Linked DNA regions of Homo sapiens: region 2 is linked to region 1. A link means that fine-mapping ties the variant in region 1 to the expression of a gene that starts in the linked region. Tissue or cell type: whole blood. Region 1 holds a variant in brackets; the other region holds the start of a gene. All regions are shown on one strand. Distances are from middle to middle.

The links. PIP is the estimated chance that this variant, and not a neighbour inherited with it, causes the effect.
Region 2: ZNF84 starts here. The variant in region 1 is fine-mapped to the expression of ZNF84 in whole blood (INTERVAL, PIP 0.96).

The regions. Positions count from the first base shown.
Region 1 is chr12:132,992,278-133,000,382 of GRCh38, reverse strand. The region is part of intron 1 of ZNF26 (zinc finger protein 26); the gene reads right to left. It also overlaps the pseudogene RNU4ATAC12P. Among named protein-coding and RNA genes, the nearest start is that of ZNF26, 10 kb to the right of the region's middle. The variant CAAAAA/A (reference allele first, on the strand shown) is at 3,486.
Region 2 is chr12:133,034,121-133,042,225 of GRCh38, reverse strand. ZNF84 (zinc finger protein 84) reads right to left here and starts at 4,717. Exons shown (of 5, transcript NM_001289971.2): 1 at 4,681-4,717; 2 at 744-948. The coding sequence starts at 758. ZNF84-DT (ZNF84 divergent transcript) reads left to right here and starts at 5,004. Exons shown (of 3, transcript NR_110091.1): 1 at 5,004-5,457. It also overlaps the pseudogene PTP4A1P2. RefSeq lists a silencer at 4,611-4,790 and an enhancer at 5,011-5,100.

The DNA.
Region 1 (8,105 bases):
CTACTCGGGAGGCTGAGGCAGGAGAATCGCTTGAACCCAGGAGGTGAAGGCTGCAGTGAGCGAGAACGTGCCACTACACTCCAGCCTGGGCAACAGAGCAAGACTCTAACTCAAAATAAATAAATAAATAAATAAAAGAATAAAAGTAAAATACAAAATAACTGTTAAAATTTTGAATTGACCTAGCATGATCAAAAGAAAATTTAAAAAGAAAATTTTATGACCAAGAAGCAGTCCAAAACTCTTAAGAGATTTAAAATTTCACAAGAGATTATGATAAACAGTTCTACTGTAATGGGACATATATGCTGCAAAAAATCACACCATGCAAAGTTGCATAAAAAGCCATAGGATTTATGAGAAAAATGAGGTAAAGGCATAATACTGGTGACACACAAAAAGAGAACCTAGGAGGCCAGGTGCAGTGGCTCACACCTGTAATCCCAGCACTTTCAGAGGCTGAGGTGGGCAGATCATTTGAGGTCAGGAGTTTGAGACCAGCCTGACCAACATGGTGAAACCCTGTCTCTACTAAATACAAAAAAATTAACCGGGCATGGTGACGGGAGGCTGAGGCAGGAGAATCACTTGAACCCAGGAGGTGGAGGTTGTAGTGAGCTGAGATCACAAAATTGCACTCCAGCCTGGGCAACAAGGGCGAGACTCCCCCTCAAAAAAAAATTTTTTTTTCAACACTTTCAAAACTTAGAAGTTAAAGCAAAGTACAAGGAATTTCCTTGACACAATAAAGTGTTTCTTCCTTAAACCTATAGAAAATATTATACTTTGTGTAAACCACTAAAATCATTTTCTTTAAAAACACATGGCGGCTGGGTGCGGTGGCTCACGCCTGTAATCCCAGCACTCTGGGAGGCTGAGGCAGGCAAATAATGAGGTCAAGAGATCGAGACCATCCTGACTAACACAGTGAAACCCCACCTCTACTAAAAACACAAAAAAATCAGCCAGGTGTGGTGGTGGGCGCCTGTATCCCAGCTACTCAGGAGGCTGAGGCAGGAGAATCACTTGAACCCGGGAGGCGGAGGTTGGCAGTGAGCTGAGATCGTGCCACTGCACTCAAGCCTGGGCAACAAAGAGCAAAACTCCATCTCAAACAAACAAACAAACAAAAAAACTAAGAGAATCGGCTGAGATAAAATGAGAACTGGTGGAGATCCACCATCTTGTCTTGCAGCTGCCTGAGACACAGACATGGCTTCTGTTCCACTGACTCTGGAACTGTGTAAACAGCTGTTGGATTCGACAGTCCCTGATAAACAGCTCTCACCTGACTGACAAAGAGCTGCTTGATTTGTGGATGGCAGTTCCAAGGTGAACAAATGACATCCTGTTTGGAAGACTGCTGCTCTGATTAAAGAAGAGTCAAGAATCTTTCTGAGTTATTTATAGCTTAGGGCAATTGGGTAAAGTATGTTTTGTGAGCAAAATTTACCTTTCTCTCTACCTGATTTCTCCAAAATTTGGAAACTATTCATGAGTATTCTGATTTTATGGCAATAGAGTTATTTGCATAAGTTCAGCAAGAATCTGTTTTCTTTTGTAAAAAGGACACAATTGAGAGACTGGTTATTTTATCAAGGCCTCAAATGGAATGGCATATTTTCAGATATAACCAGGCTGCTTTGAGAAATTTAGGTTGGATTTATAGAGCTGATAAAAAGCCCCTTGGAAAGACTCGCCTGGTACCTTGTCCACCTTAAAGATTCCTGATCTGTGGCAAGTAAAGAATGTCACTTTTTAACAGGCTCAGGAACCTCATGGTATTTTGGGATCTCGAGAAGACAGGAATTCATACAGGTGTTACAAGCACAGTCGAGCAGCAAATCCTTGGCTTGGCTTCTGGCCTTCTAAGCTTTTAAAAAGTCGAATCCAAAATTCCTTTAAAAAGTTCCAGCAAGGCCGAGAGCAGTGGCTTATGCCTGTAATCCCAGCACTTTGGGAGGCTGAGGAGGGCAGATCATGAGGTCAGAAGTTTGAGACCAGCCTGACCAACATGGTGAAACCCTATGTCTACTAAAAATACAAAAATTAGCCAGGCGTGCTGGAACACACCTGTAATCCCAGCTACTCAGGAGGCTGAGGCAGGATAATCGCTTGAACCCGGGAGGCGAAGGTTGCAGTGAGCCAAGATCACACCACTGCACTCCAGCCTGGGCGACAGAGCAAGACTCCGTCTCAAAAAGAAAAAAGAAAAAAAAAAAAAAGCTCCAGCAAAGTCAACTTAAAAGAAGCCTACATGGCTGGTCACTATTCTTGCTATTCTTTATGCAAATAACCAGGCCAAGTATAATGAGATCAAAATTTATTTGCAAATAAGTTGGTCCTGCTACGATTTATTCTTGGTAGAAGTAGGGACACCAGAGAGAGAAAATTTTAGATTCTGATTGCTGTTCTGAGTTTTTATTATTTGCCTATAATTTGGGCTAACTGAATTATTTCCTGGCTACAAGAAGTCCCTAAAAAGGAACCAGGTTTTCGTTTTCTTCATGATACTTTTAGTCGGCCCATTAACGGAACAGGTTATTTGCTGGTGTTGTTCTGGCACAATCAAAAGTTCTCTTTCGTTTGTAATCCTTGTGTGCATTCTATTTCTATTATTCAAATTATTGTTATGTATCTCTCATTGTTTTACTTCATCTGAGACAAGCAAAGTCATAGTATTCTGAAGACTAGAAATGATTCAACAACCCTGTGAACCTCCTTAATTTGGAACCCTCCTTGGCCTAATCTGTTTTCCACTGCACTGCTGCTAAAGCTCTGCAATATCAGGCACCCTACCTAACGTTCAGGGGAGGGCGCATAAGATAGAAAAGCTGGACTGGGAGGTGAAGTGTGAAGGCCAAAGCAACTCCATCTTGGAAGCTCATCGACCATGTGGGCTTCTGATTAACCCCTGTTCTGGACTCTATCTTGGAAGCTCATCGACCATGTGGGCTTCTGATTAACCCCTGTTCTGGACTCCATCTTGGAAGCTAATCTACCATGTGGGTTTCTGATTAACCCCTGTTCTGGACTCCATCTTGGAAGCTCATCGACCATGTGGGCTTCTGATTAACCCCTGTTCTGGACTCCATCTTGGAAACTAATCTACCATGTGAGCTTCTGATTAACCCCTGTTCTGGACTCCATCTTGGAAGTTCATCTACCGTGTGGGCTTCTGATTAGCCCCTGTTCTGGGAAGGCCTCTAAGATTTCCAGTTCATCTATTGTTCCTTGTGTCAGACCAGGTACTTACCATAAATCCTACCCTTAGGTCAAACAACCTTGATGTAACTGTACTTCAACTGTCTTACACATCCCTTCTGAACCACCCCTCCCTACGGTCTAGAAGCACTGGGTCTGGGGGTAATGGTGCAGGGATCCACCACCTTGTCTTGCCACTGCATGAGACACAGACATGGCTTCTGTTCTTAAGTCCCTATTAAATGTTTCTTTCTAAGAAAACAAAACAAAACAAAACAAAA[CAAAAA/A]ACCATGAGAACCAGTAAGAAAAGTCAACAGGGTAGCAGTTTTAAACAAAACAATAAGGAATAGCTTTTTGGCACATTAGCAGTCACCAACCAGAAAATATAGTAAGAAAATGCCTATATGATCACAGTAACAAATCTAGAAAGTACTTAGGAATAAAAAGCTTTAAAACGCAGGAAAACCTAACAAAAAATACACATGATAAAATATGTAAGTACAAAGAGATTGAAGCAACATGCCATGTTTATGATGAGTAGACTTACATGGCAAAGATATTAATTTTCCACAAATTAATTTGCACATTTGATAAATTCTCAATGAAAATACCAAGAAAGTTTTTCATTTTATTTCACCTAATAATTCTAACTCTCAATAATGTAAAATAAAATCATATGCTTGGACTACTACTGCTACAACTAGAAAATTCTAAATACTCTTATCTTTTTTAAAACACCAGAGACCTGTGGAAGGAAGGAGGACTAAACAAACTAAAATTGCGAGAGAAAAGAGCTCCTCTTGGGTGAGCTAAAATTGCTGGCTGTTACCTCGCTGGGCCATTTGCTCAGCTTGAGAACAGTGAAGGAAGGGCTCGGCCCAGACAGAGGACTATTCTAGGGGAAAGAGAAACCAGTGAAGGTTTTGATGTGCCCCAGTGGACAGTGAGTTTTCCCCATGGGACATCTGTTGAGTGCTGGTCAGTGCAAGAAGCTGCAGGCTGGGCTGGAATGGCAGACTGAGTCTCCCGCAGCCTCAAGGTGCTCCAGAAACAAAGTACCAGTAGAGAGGAGCCTGCAATAAATATACCATCCAGAAACCCGAAGACACAGGTAACAGAGTACAGCCCCTAAACAGCTCAATTCCTGTTTTGATTGAGGTGATCAGCCATTCCCCTACTGCATGACAGAGAAAAGGGGAAATATCCTCTGATATAAAACAACAGTAAGGTCAGGTATGGTGGCTCACCCCTGTAATCCCAGCACTTTGGGAGGCCAAGGTGGGTGGATCACCTGAGGCCAGGAGTTTGAGACCAGCCTGACCAACATGGTGAAATCCCGTCTCTACTAAATATACAAAAATTATCCAGGCATGGTGGTGGGCAACTGTAATCCCAGCTACTGGGTAGGCTGAGGCAGAAGAATTGCTTGAACCCAGGAGGCGGAGGTTGCAGTGAGCCAAGATCGCGCCACTGCACTCCAGCCTGGGCGACAGAGCAAGACTCTGTCTCAAAAAAAACCACAACAGTAAACTTCAGTCTCTGTGGTTATTCCTTTTAAAACAATGTCAGCAAAAAATTAAAAACTTTGAGACATGAGGCAGGAAAATATGACTGACAAAAGGAATAGGCAGATAATTGATAAAGATGCACAGATGATCCAGATGATGTTAGCAAACAAGTAATATTACAAATAACTATCATAATATATAACTATGTAAATATTTAAAATACAGAGAAGTTGTATACAGTGAATAAAAGGAGAACTGGAATTAAAAAAAAAAAAAAACAAGGAGACATTTAGAAACAAACAACTGATCCCTGAAATGAGCATCAACGGGACAATGGCCAATACAAGTCTGTTAAGGATGTGGAGCAAACCATCCTTCTCGTGGGGTTGTGTTACTGTCCAGTGAGCGCATGGTGAGGGCAATACTGCTAACGCCTACACAACACACCCACATCAACTATGGTGGTGCAATTTTTTGAAAAGTGGAAAACCTCTTTTCCATGAAAATAAAAAGGGATATAGAGCAAATGCAGTTCTCAATTCCTGGTACTGGGAATGTGAAGTCATTTCGCCACTTTGGAAAACTAAGAGTATGTACTAAATTTAAATATACGTATACAATGACTCAACAGTATCATTCGTAAGTATGTGCCCAGTGGTTCTCAATGGGCAGGAGGGAGATTTTGCCCCCCCGGGGGCATTTGACAATGTCTGGAGCCCTTTATGGTTGTCATAGTGGGGCAGTGCTACTGGCACCTACATAAGTCGGGGCCAGGAATGCTGCTCAGCAACCCACGATGCACAGGACGTTCCTCCACAACAAAGAATTATTCCATCCAAAATGTCAATAGTGCTGAGGTTGAAAAATCCTGGTATGTGCCTAACAGAAATGATAGTTGATGTCTACCAAAACAAATGTACAAAAAGGTTCAAAGTCGTGTTATCTAAAATAACCAGTAACTGAAAACAACCTAAACACTGATGTTGATAACAGATTATTACAACAGACAAATTATGAAATGTTCATACAACAGAATATCATACAACTTCACAAAAATAAGCCAACACAAACATTTTAAGGATATAAACATATGCATTAAAAATGTACAGGGAAAGACCTAGAAGAATATCTATCAAACTGATTACCTCCGAGGAGAGAGAGGGGATTGGGATGGGTGGGTGGTTATAAGAGACTGAATTGTGTTCTAAGAGAATCAACTGTATCATCAAAAATTAATAGTTCCAGTTCTGCATGTAAAGAGTTTGGAAGTAGCCACTCTGTCCTAACAAGTAAAAAGTTTAACAAACTGAAAAATCAACAACTCTTCTTAGATCTGAAAGAGAAGTGAAGATACAAGGCAAACAAACCACTGTCCCCAAAATTAGAGACAGGCAGAAACACAGTAGTTACCAGATCACAAATCTCTGTGAGAAAGCGTCAGGACAGAAATACCTGAACTGCAACTGACAAATTGCTAGAGGCTAGGTGTGTACATGTTTGAAGTTAAAAAGTCCAGGGGGACCCAGTCATGGTGGGAGTGGAGGGAGACAAAGTCCCAAGCTTTTCTGAGTTTTACTTTCAGGAGCTCAACCAGGTTCCCAGAGCCTAATATATTGGGGTTTTGTCAGAGCTTAACTAACCTGAGGGAAGAGAGATATACCAAATTCCACCCTGTCCCATCTAAGAGATGGGGTGGGGGTGGCCTGGGAAATACTTGTGAGGTTGAGAGTCCAGGAGAACAGGCTCACAAAGAGACAGACCTAATCAGGGGCCTACAGAATGCTCACCCTTTCCTGACATCTCATCACCACATTAGTAAAGTACTATTAAAAGTAATTCCTTTTACTCAGTACATCATGTCTAGCTATGAATGTAAAGGGACAAGGCAATACTAAAAGGCAAAAAAACATAGGGCAACCACGCGCCGTGGCTCACGCCTGTAATCCCAGCACTCTGGGAGGCCGAGGGGGGTAGATCACCTGAGGTCAGGAATTCGAGATCAGCCTGGCCAGTATGGTGAAACCCCGTCTCTACTAAAAATACAAAAATCAGCCGGGCATGGTGGAGTGCACCTGTAGTCCCAGCTACTCGGGAGGCTGAGGCAGAAGAATCACTTGAACCCAACAGGCGGAGGTTGTAGTGAGCCAAGATCACACCACTGCACTCCAGCCTGGACTCCATCTCAAAAAAAAAAATAAAAACAAAAACAAAAACACAGACAGGGCAAGCATCAGAACCAGACATGATAGGGATGTTGAAGGTATCAGACAAAACTTAAAACAACCATGAATAATATGTTATGGGCTCTAGTGAATAAAGTAGGCAGCATGTAAGAACAGATGGGCAGGCCAGGCGTAGTGGCTCACACCTGTAATCCCAGCACTTTGAGAGGCTGAGGTGGGTAGATCACTTGAGGTCAGAAGTTCGAAACCAGCCTAACCAACATACTGAAACTCTGTCTCTACTAAAAATACAAAAATTAGCTAGGCACGGTGGTGCGCACCTGTAGTCCCAGCTACTCAGGAGGCTGAGGCACAAGAATGGCTTGAACCTGAGAGGTAGAGGCTGCAGTGAGCCCAGATCGCACCACTGCACTCCAGCCTGGGCAAGAAAGTGAGACTCCATCTCAAAAAAAAAAAAAAAGAAATACTAGTGATCAAAAACACTGTACAGAAGTGAAGAATGCCTTTGATGGGCTTATGTATTATGTAGACTGCACGAGATTGAGGAAAAAAATCTTTGAACTTAAGGATGTATCAACAGAAACCTTCAAGCAAAGAGAACACTGGGGAAAAAAAAAAAGAACAGAATATCCAAGATGGACAGCCACAAAAGGTGTAGATATGCACAATGGAAATACCCGAAGGAAAGGAAAAGAACAGAAGAAAGACAGTCGGTGCCTGACGCACAGTGGTTTGACTTAGTATTTTTCAATTTTACAATGGCGCAGAAGCAATACACTTCAGTACGTTCCCCAACTTATGATGAGGCTCCATCTGGATAAACCTATTATAAGTTGAACATATTGTAAGTCGAAAATGCACTTCTGACAAAGAGATTTTCAATTTATGATGAGTTTATCAGGATGTAACCACATCATCAAGTCAAGGAGCATCTATATATGAAACAATAATTACTGAAAATTTCGCTGAAGTAATGTCAGACACCAAATCACAGATGGAGGAAAATCCGAGAATACCAAGAAGATAAATGCCAAAAAACCTGCACGTAGGCATATCATTTTTAAAACACAAAAAATCAAAGATAAGCCAGAGATGAAAAAAAATACCTTACCTACAGAAACCACACAAGCAAGAAAATGGAGTGAAACAGTTAAGGTGTTTAGAGAAAAAAAAATCATCAAAACAGAATTCTGTACCCTGCAAAATTATC
Region 2 (8,105 bases), 42 kb before region 1:
CACTACTTTTATGTCTAGGAGCCATTATTAAGTAAAATAAGGGCTACTAAAATACAAGCACTGCAATACCATGAGCTGATCTGACACCTCAGATGGCTACTAAGTGACTGACAGGTAAGCAGCATATACAGCATGGATCTGCTGGACCAAGGGATGAGGCAGGTCCTGGGTGGGATGGTGCAAGAGTTCATCATGCTACTCAGAACAGGAAGCAATTTAAAACTTACCAATTGCTTATTTCTGAAATTTTCTATTTAATATTTTCAAACCATGGGAAATTGGAAAATTGAAACTGCAAAAAGCAAAACTGCAGATAAGGAGGAACTACTGCATATCTCTCATTCATAAGACTTCATCAAGGAAAAAGAAATGGACACCCGATAACCAAGAAATATTTACTTCCTATGGGCAATCAGTTTGCTTTTACCTTTAAACGATGCAAAGCATATAAAAGCTCACATTTCTCTATTACGACTACCAAAAATTTGAAAACAAAGTTTGCAGCTCAAATGCAGTAATTATGTAAGATGTTATGGCTTTAAATATGCTATAAATACTCAATCCTAAGAACCTGTCATGGTCCAGTAGTTAATATATCACTGTGCCAATTTTGTTCCAATCCTGATCATCTGAGGCTATTTTCCTCTGATTTCTTAACTATTTAAACTTTTCTTTTTCACCGGAAGGCTTATACATTTCTTCTAATTCCCTGGGAAAAAATAAGAACTCAACAATCAACTCACCTGTAACATGGTCATTTTCTGCTGCTGTACGAGATGATCAGCAAGGCTGAGATCGGTTCTACTGTGCGTCTCTTCTGCTTCTGCCCCAAAACTGTGGAGTGAGGTCTCAGCTAGGTCTTCTACACTGAGAATGAATTCCTGGTTCCAGGAACTCCTTTCTTATCTCACATGAGCAGGCTTATTTGTAGGGACCAGGATCTGTGGACTTCGGGAGAAATGTACTTCAACTGGTATATTCACATTGCACATGAAATCTCTTTCTCTCTTGCTAGGAACTTGGAATTCACGATCATCTAAGGCCAGAGGTACGCTTGCTATATAACTGAAACAGCACTCTCAGGGAAACAGAATATAGTAAAATGGAACAGTGGAAGCCTAGGTCTCTGCAAACAGATAAGGAAATATCAGAAATAAAGTAATTGTGAGATTCACTCAATATTCACTGTGAATGCTGAAATGCAAATCAGTTTAACAGGTGCTGTTAGGAAAAACACAGTTTATATGATCTGTATTAAAACAGATTTGAGTTTCAATCAACTTTTTCCTTTACCAGCTAGATGACTTTTGGCAAAAACAAACAAATTTCACCATTCTGAGCCTAATTTCCTATTAAAATCTTCTATTAATATATCCTTAACTTTTGTCTGCCATTTTTGTCTACCCATTTCAGAAGGAAATGGGTTAAAATCTCACAATATGACTAGAGATTGGTCAGTTTTTCCTTATAATTCTGCTGATGTTTGGATTATATGCTTATGGCTATGTTGTTTGATGCGTCAAGGTTAAATAGGGGTTTTAAAAAATCATTGTGTAACAACGCTTCATACCCCCAATAATGCTTTTTGCCTTAAAATCTATTTTATCTTAGATGAAGTCTGCAACATCAGCATTCTTTTTTTTTTTTTTTTTTTTTGGTACGGTCTTGCTCCCTAACCCAGGCTGGCATGCAGTGGCACAATCAGAGCTCACTGCAACTTTGAACTCCAGGCTCAAGGGATCCTCCTGCCTCAGCCTCCCACGTAGCTGGAACTACAGGTTTGTGTGCCTCCATGCCCAGCTAACTGTTTTTGTATTTTTTTTCTTTGTAGAGACAGGATCTCGCTATGCTGCCCAGGATAGTCTCAAACTCCTGGGCTCAAGCAATTCTCCCACCTCAGCCTCCCAGAGTGCTAGGATTATAGGCATACAACACCACACCTGGCTTCAGCATTCTTTTGGTATTTACGTGGTATGTTATCATCTGGTCAACTACACTAAAAATCTTAGCATCATTATCTTTGTCCCTTATAAGCAGCTCAGAGCTCAAATTTATTGGTGTTTAAAAAAAAAAAAATCCAAATTGGCCAGGAGCGATGGCTTACGCCTGTAATTCCAGCACTTTGGGAGGCCAAGGCAGATGGATCACCTGAGGTCAGGAGTTCAACCAGCCTGACCAACATGATGAAACCCCATCTCTACTAAAAATACAAAAATAAACCAGGCGTGGTGGCATGCACCTGTAAGCTCAGCTACTTGGGAGGCTGAGGCAGAAGAGTTGCTTGAACCTGGGAGGTGGATGTTGCAGCCCGTGCCATTGTACTCCAGCCTGGTGCAACAAAAGGGAAACTCCATCTCAAAAAAAAAAAAAAAATCCAAACCAACAGTGTGTCTTTTAACTGACAAATTGAATACATTTAATGTTTATTGTGGTTACTGTTTTTCCCCCCTCCTTTCTTGCCTTCAAAGCCTCAATTTCTGTACTTGCTAAAATGGTGAAGATAAAGTGGACCTCACAATGGGAGTCTAAGAAACAAATGAGGTGTTAAAAGGAAAGCGACTGGGGCCTTGTAATAACAGTTACAGCTAACATTCCAGTGCTTTCTGTATGTGAGACAATATACTAAGCATTTTAAATTTAACTCATGCACAACCCTATAAGGCGTTTAACATAATCTCCATTTTACAGAGAGAAAACTGGGACAATGAGTGATTGTAAAATGTGCCTGTGATTGCACATTTAGTAAGTAGCAAAATTCAAATGTTAATTCTCTATCCTGCTATGTTCAAAGCATGAATACTAAAGTCATATTGTCATTTGTGCATATCTACATGCACAAACACACACAACATAAATCCTGGAGTCAGCTCCTATTCCCATGCACACATTCAGTCACTAATTCCCACAAAAATATAAATGAAGGACGCCCTGCCTCAACTGTATCACACTAACAAGCAGCACTTTCTTTTTCATGCCTTTTTGTGGTTCAAACTTCAGTGCCAACTCAGAAACACACAGCAGTTTCTCCCAGTTATACAAGAAATGACTCCTTTATACCTTAAATTGTGATAATACATAAATCTTAGAACAAAAGCTGGCACACAGTCATACGAAACATATACTAGCTATAATTATTATTATAAAAGTAATATATGATGGCAAAATATAAAAAACATACACAAGCTAAATAAGAACTATTATCTATGATCTCACCACAGGTAACCATTCTTAGGATGATGGAAACTATTGTGATATTTTTCATACAATGGAAGCATATGGTCATATTTAAAAGCTGTTTTTGTTTTTTTCCCATTATGTGAAGAACATCTTTCCAGGTCAATAACCTTATTTCTGTAAGATATAAACAACTCACATAAAATAACAAAAAAATAAAATCCGACTCATAATTGACAAAATACATAAAATATGTAGGAATATCAAGACCCATATGAAGCATACTAAAAACACCAATGAGAACTATAAAAATAGAATTAAAGAAATTTATAATTCGATTTTATTCTGGGATAGGAAGACTTCAGATTGTGAAGATAATTTGACCTCAAATGATTTATATAACTCATCGACTCCAATCAGAATCTCAAAATTCTAAAGTTTATGTGTAAGAAAAAAGGTTCAAGAACAATTCGGACACTTTTTTTTTTTTTTTGACAGGGTCTTACTGTGTTGTCCAGGCTGAAGTGCAATGGCATAACCATAGCTCACTGCAGCCCTGAACTCCTGGGCTCAAGTGATCCTCCTACCTCAACCTACAGAGTAGCTGGGGCTACAGGCATGCCCTACCACACCGGGCCTGGATGCTTTTGGAAATACAAAATAATGAGTGTGAACAGGCCCACTGTAATACATACAAATTATAATCATTATAACATTTGACACTGGCTCCAGAGAAGTTATACAGATGAAAAAAAGCAAACTGTCTAAATATGCAAGAGTCAGCATGCAATAAATGTAGCATTTCAAAGCCATCAGTAAAATTAAATTATTTAATGAATACAAGAATATTTGAAAGAAAATAAACGTAGCTATTTCATACAACTACTTTCAGTGGGTTAAATTTTAAAATAATGGAAACCCTAAGAATGTCTACAAAAAAAAACCACAGGTGAATGAATATATGTATAATTTGAGGGGAGATTTCGCTACACCATACCAAAAGCAAAAGTCACTTAAAAAATTTAAAACAGTCAATAAATATAACCATTAAAAAATACACGGCCAGGAATGGTGGCTCACACCTGTAACCCCAGCGCTTTAAAAGCCTCCTTCGATAGCGGCAGAGCCAGGCTGCTGGTGGATGCGGTCCAGCAGGGCAGCCGCTCCTTAGGGCCACGGCGCGGCAAGCGGGCTGGCCCGAGGTCGAGGCTAAACGCGCCCGAGGCTAAACGCGCCCGAGGCTGGCGCCTCCACGCCCGCCTGAAAGGACGCCCAGGAGCGGCGCCTCCGGAAAGGCCGTGCCCGCCCCACAGCCCAGAATCCGCGCAGCTCCGCGGCCCACGGCATCTTCACGACCCGGCCCAGCCCCAACCCGCCCCAGACCCGCATCCGCGCGCGGACGCCCAGGGCCTTGAAGCCGAAGCTCCCCGCGGCCACTCCCGCGCGCCTCCCCCGCCATTCCCGGAGCCCCCAGCGCCGGGCCCGCAATAAACTCACTGAACTCACAAAAGACGCCGCCGCCGAGTCGCGCCCGCGCGCCCGCGGCCTCGCGATCACGTGACACCGCCCGTCCCCCGTGTCCCGCGCACGCGCCCAAACCGTCGGCCTTTGTGCGCTCCCGGGCGGCTCCGAACGGGCCGGGACGAGTCGGGGACTGCACACGCGCACACTCGCACGCGCGCACACGCGTACACTCCCCTCTCACGTGGCAGCGAAGGACAAAGAGGAAGAACGGGCCACCTGCAAGCATTACCAAGAGTGCATGTGCGCATGCGCGAAGGAAGGAGCCCCGCGAACTCAACTTCCCACAGTGCCCCGCGTCCGGAAGTGCCTGTCGCTTGGAGACGGAGTGACTCCAAACGGGCTCACACGGTTTTCTGAGAAACATAAAGGGAAACCGAATCCACCAATATATATATATATTTTCTTGAGACGGCGTCTCGCTCTGTCACCCAGGCTGGAGTGCAGTGGCGTGATCTCGGCTCACTGCAAACTCCGCCTCCCGGGTTGACGCCATTCTTCTGCCTCAGCCTCCCGAGTAGCTGGGACTACAGGCGCCCGCCGCCACGCCCGGCTAATTTTTTTGTATTTTAGTAGAGACGGGGAGTCACCGTGTTGCCCAGGCTGGTCGCGAACTCCTGAGCTCAGGCAATCCGCCCGCCTTGGCCTCCCAAAGTGCTAGGATTACAGGCGTGAGCCACCGCGCCCGGCCCACCAATACTCAATTGGTTTGACTTCAGTTGAGGAAACCAGAAAAAATTTAAATATATTTATGGAAAGAAGGTAAGAATTAACAGAAAAAAGTAAAGTTGATCCATAACTGGAGTCGTAGGGAGAATTATAGGTAAGTCACGATGCTTATGACAGCAAGATGGGGCCGGGGAGATGGAGGAGAGAGATGAAAAAAGAGAAATAACCATAGACACATAGGAAATTGAATGAAAATCCGCTCTATACTAATAAATTTGATAATTTGTGACACAAATGATTCTCCAGGACAACATGGGCCAAATTTGACCCAATTTTATCCACAATTTGAAGACAAATTCAGAGATCCTTTGCCAGAAAGCATCATAATGAGTTGCTTAGTGAATTGCTTCAAACATCCAGTGATTAGAGAATTCTTATATTTATTCCCAGAGGTAGAACTCACCAGTGAAGTACTAGCATAAAAACAGACGCATGGACCAATGTGGAACAGCGTAGAAAAACCAGAAATAACCCCATGCATATACAGTCAACTAATCTTAGGCAAGTCAACTAATCTTGTGTCAAGAATACACGATGGGGAAAGGACAGTCGCTTCAATAAATAGCGTGAGGAAACCGGATATCCAAATACTGCTACGCAAAAGACCTCATTGCCCGATGTGCACAGAAGCCAATACTATGGCACCAGGCGTTTGAGAAAAGAAAAGCTTAATTGCGAGTTGACCAACAAAGTGACAGGAGTTTAGTTCAAATCTATCTCTCTGTGCTGCCCTTAAGGCAGCACTATTGTGAAAAAAGGTTTAGAGGGTGGATTCTGGGATTCACAGGTGAATGGTGAAGGAAAAAGGAAGTCTGGAAAGTCCCCGACCATGTGCAGTTGTCTCTTCAAGCCTCTTCTTGGGTCCCATGTGCAAATTAAGGTAGAGTTAGTGTGAAAAGTGCAGTGGAAATTCAGGCTGCGACATCAGCAAGCTCATTCTGCATGGACTCCGTTTGGTTATATTGGTTTCAACTGATTTCAGCCAGTTGTATTATATTACAAACGGAGTTTCAGCAAACTGTTTCTTATCTGCCATCCTGTAAGCTCAAGAATTTCTGTTAGCCGGACGCGGTGGCTCACGCCTATAATCCTAGCACTTTGGGAGGCCGAGGCGGGCAGATCACCTGAGGTCAGGAGTTCGAGACCAGCCTGGCCAACATGGTGAAACCCTGTCTCTACTAAAAATACAAAAATTAGCTGGGCGTGGTGGTGCACACCTGTAATCCCAGCTCCTCGGGAGGCTGAGGCAGGAGAATCGCTTGAACCTGGGAGGTGGAGATTGCAGCGAGCCGACATCGCGCCACTGCACTCCAGCCTGGGCGACAAGAGCGAGACTCCATCTCAAAAAAAAAAAATTCGTTAGTCACTGGTTTCTTTAACTATTTGGGGGCATGGTTTCACAACTTCTTCTTCTTCTTTTTTTTTTTTTTTGAGACAATCCCTCACCAGAATCTAGGCCTTTTCTAACCTGCTCCTCCAGACTCTTCCAAACTCTGCCCATTACCCAGTTCCAAAGCCACTTCCACATTTTCAGGATTTATTATTAGCAACAGCCCCACTCCTCAGTACCAATTTTCTGTCTTAGTTTATTTTCTATTGCTGTAACTGAATACCTGACACTGAATAATTTATAAAGAAAATGAATTTATTTCTTACAGTTCTGGAGACTGGGAAGTCCAAGGTTGAGGGACACTTCTGGTAAGGACTTCCTTGCTAGCAGGACTCTCTGCAGAGCCCCAGGTCAGTCCAGGGTGCACACTGTGAAGGGGGATCAAGCAGCCGAGCCCATTTCTCTCTTTCTCTTCCTATAAAGCCACTAATGCCCACCCTCATGAGCTCATCTAATCCTAGTTACCTCCCAAAGGTCCCACCTCTCAATTGCCATAGGCAGCTTTCCCACTCTCCTAACACTGTTACAATGGGGGTTAGTTGCAACGTAATTTTCAGAGGGCATAGACATTCAAATCATAGCAGTATATATCCAAAATAAATAAAATTAAAAGATATCTCAGCGATATCTGCACTCCCCTGTTCATTGCAGCATTATTCACAATAGTGAAGATGTAGAAACAACCTAAGCATCTATCAAAAGATAAAGAAAATGTAGTATACGTACACAATAGAATATTACTTGGCCTCAAAAAAGGAGAAAATTCTGTGATTTACTACAACATGGATGAGCCTGGAGGACATTATGCAAAGTGAAATACACATAGAAATACACGGATACAGAAAGAAGATACTACACGATCTCACGTAGATGTGGAATCTTAAAAAGTCGAACTCATAGAAACAGTGGAAGAGTGGTTACCAGAGGTCAGGTGGCAAGTAGGGGAAATGAGGAGATGTTGGTCAAATGTTTTAAAAAGAGAACAAACTTGCAGTTATAACATGAATAAATTCTGGAGACCTAATGGACAGCATGGTGACGACAGTTAATAATATGTTGTACGCTTGAAATTCACTTAGAGTAAGCCTGAAATACCCTAATCACACATACCTAAAGGGTAACTATGTGAGGTGATGGATACATTCACTGGCTTGATTGTGTCAGTCACTTCACAATGATATATATATATATATATATATATAAAGATCCCATTGTCATCTTGGATACAATTTTATCTCATTTTTTTCTTTTCTTAAACATTTTATTGATTTTATAGAGGGATTTCTTTTTT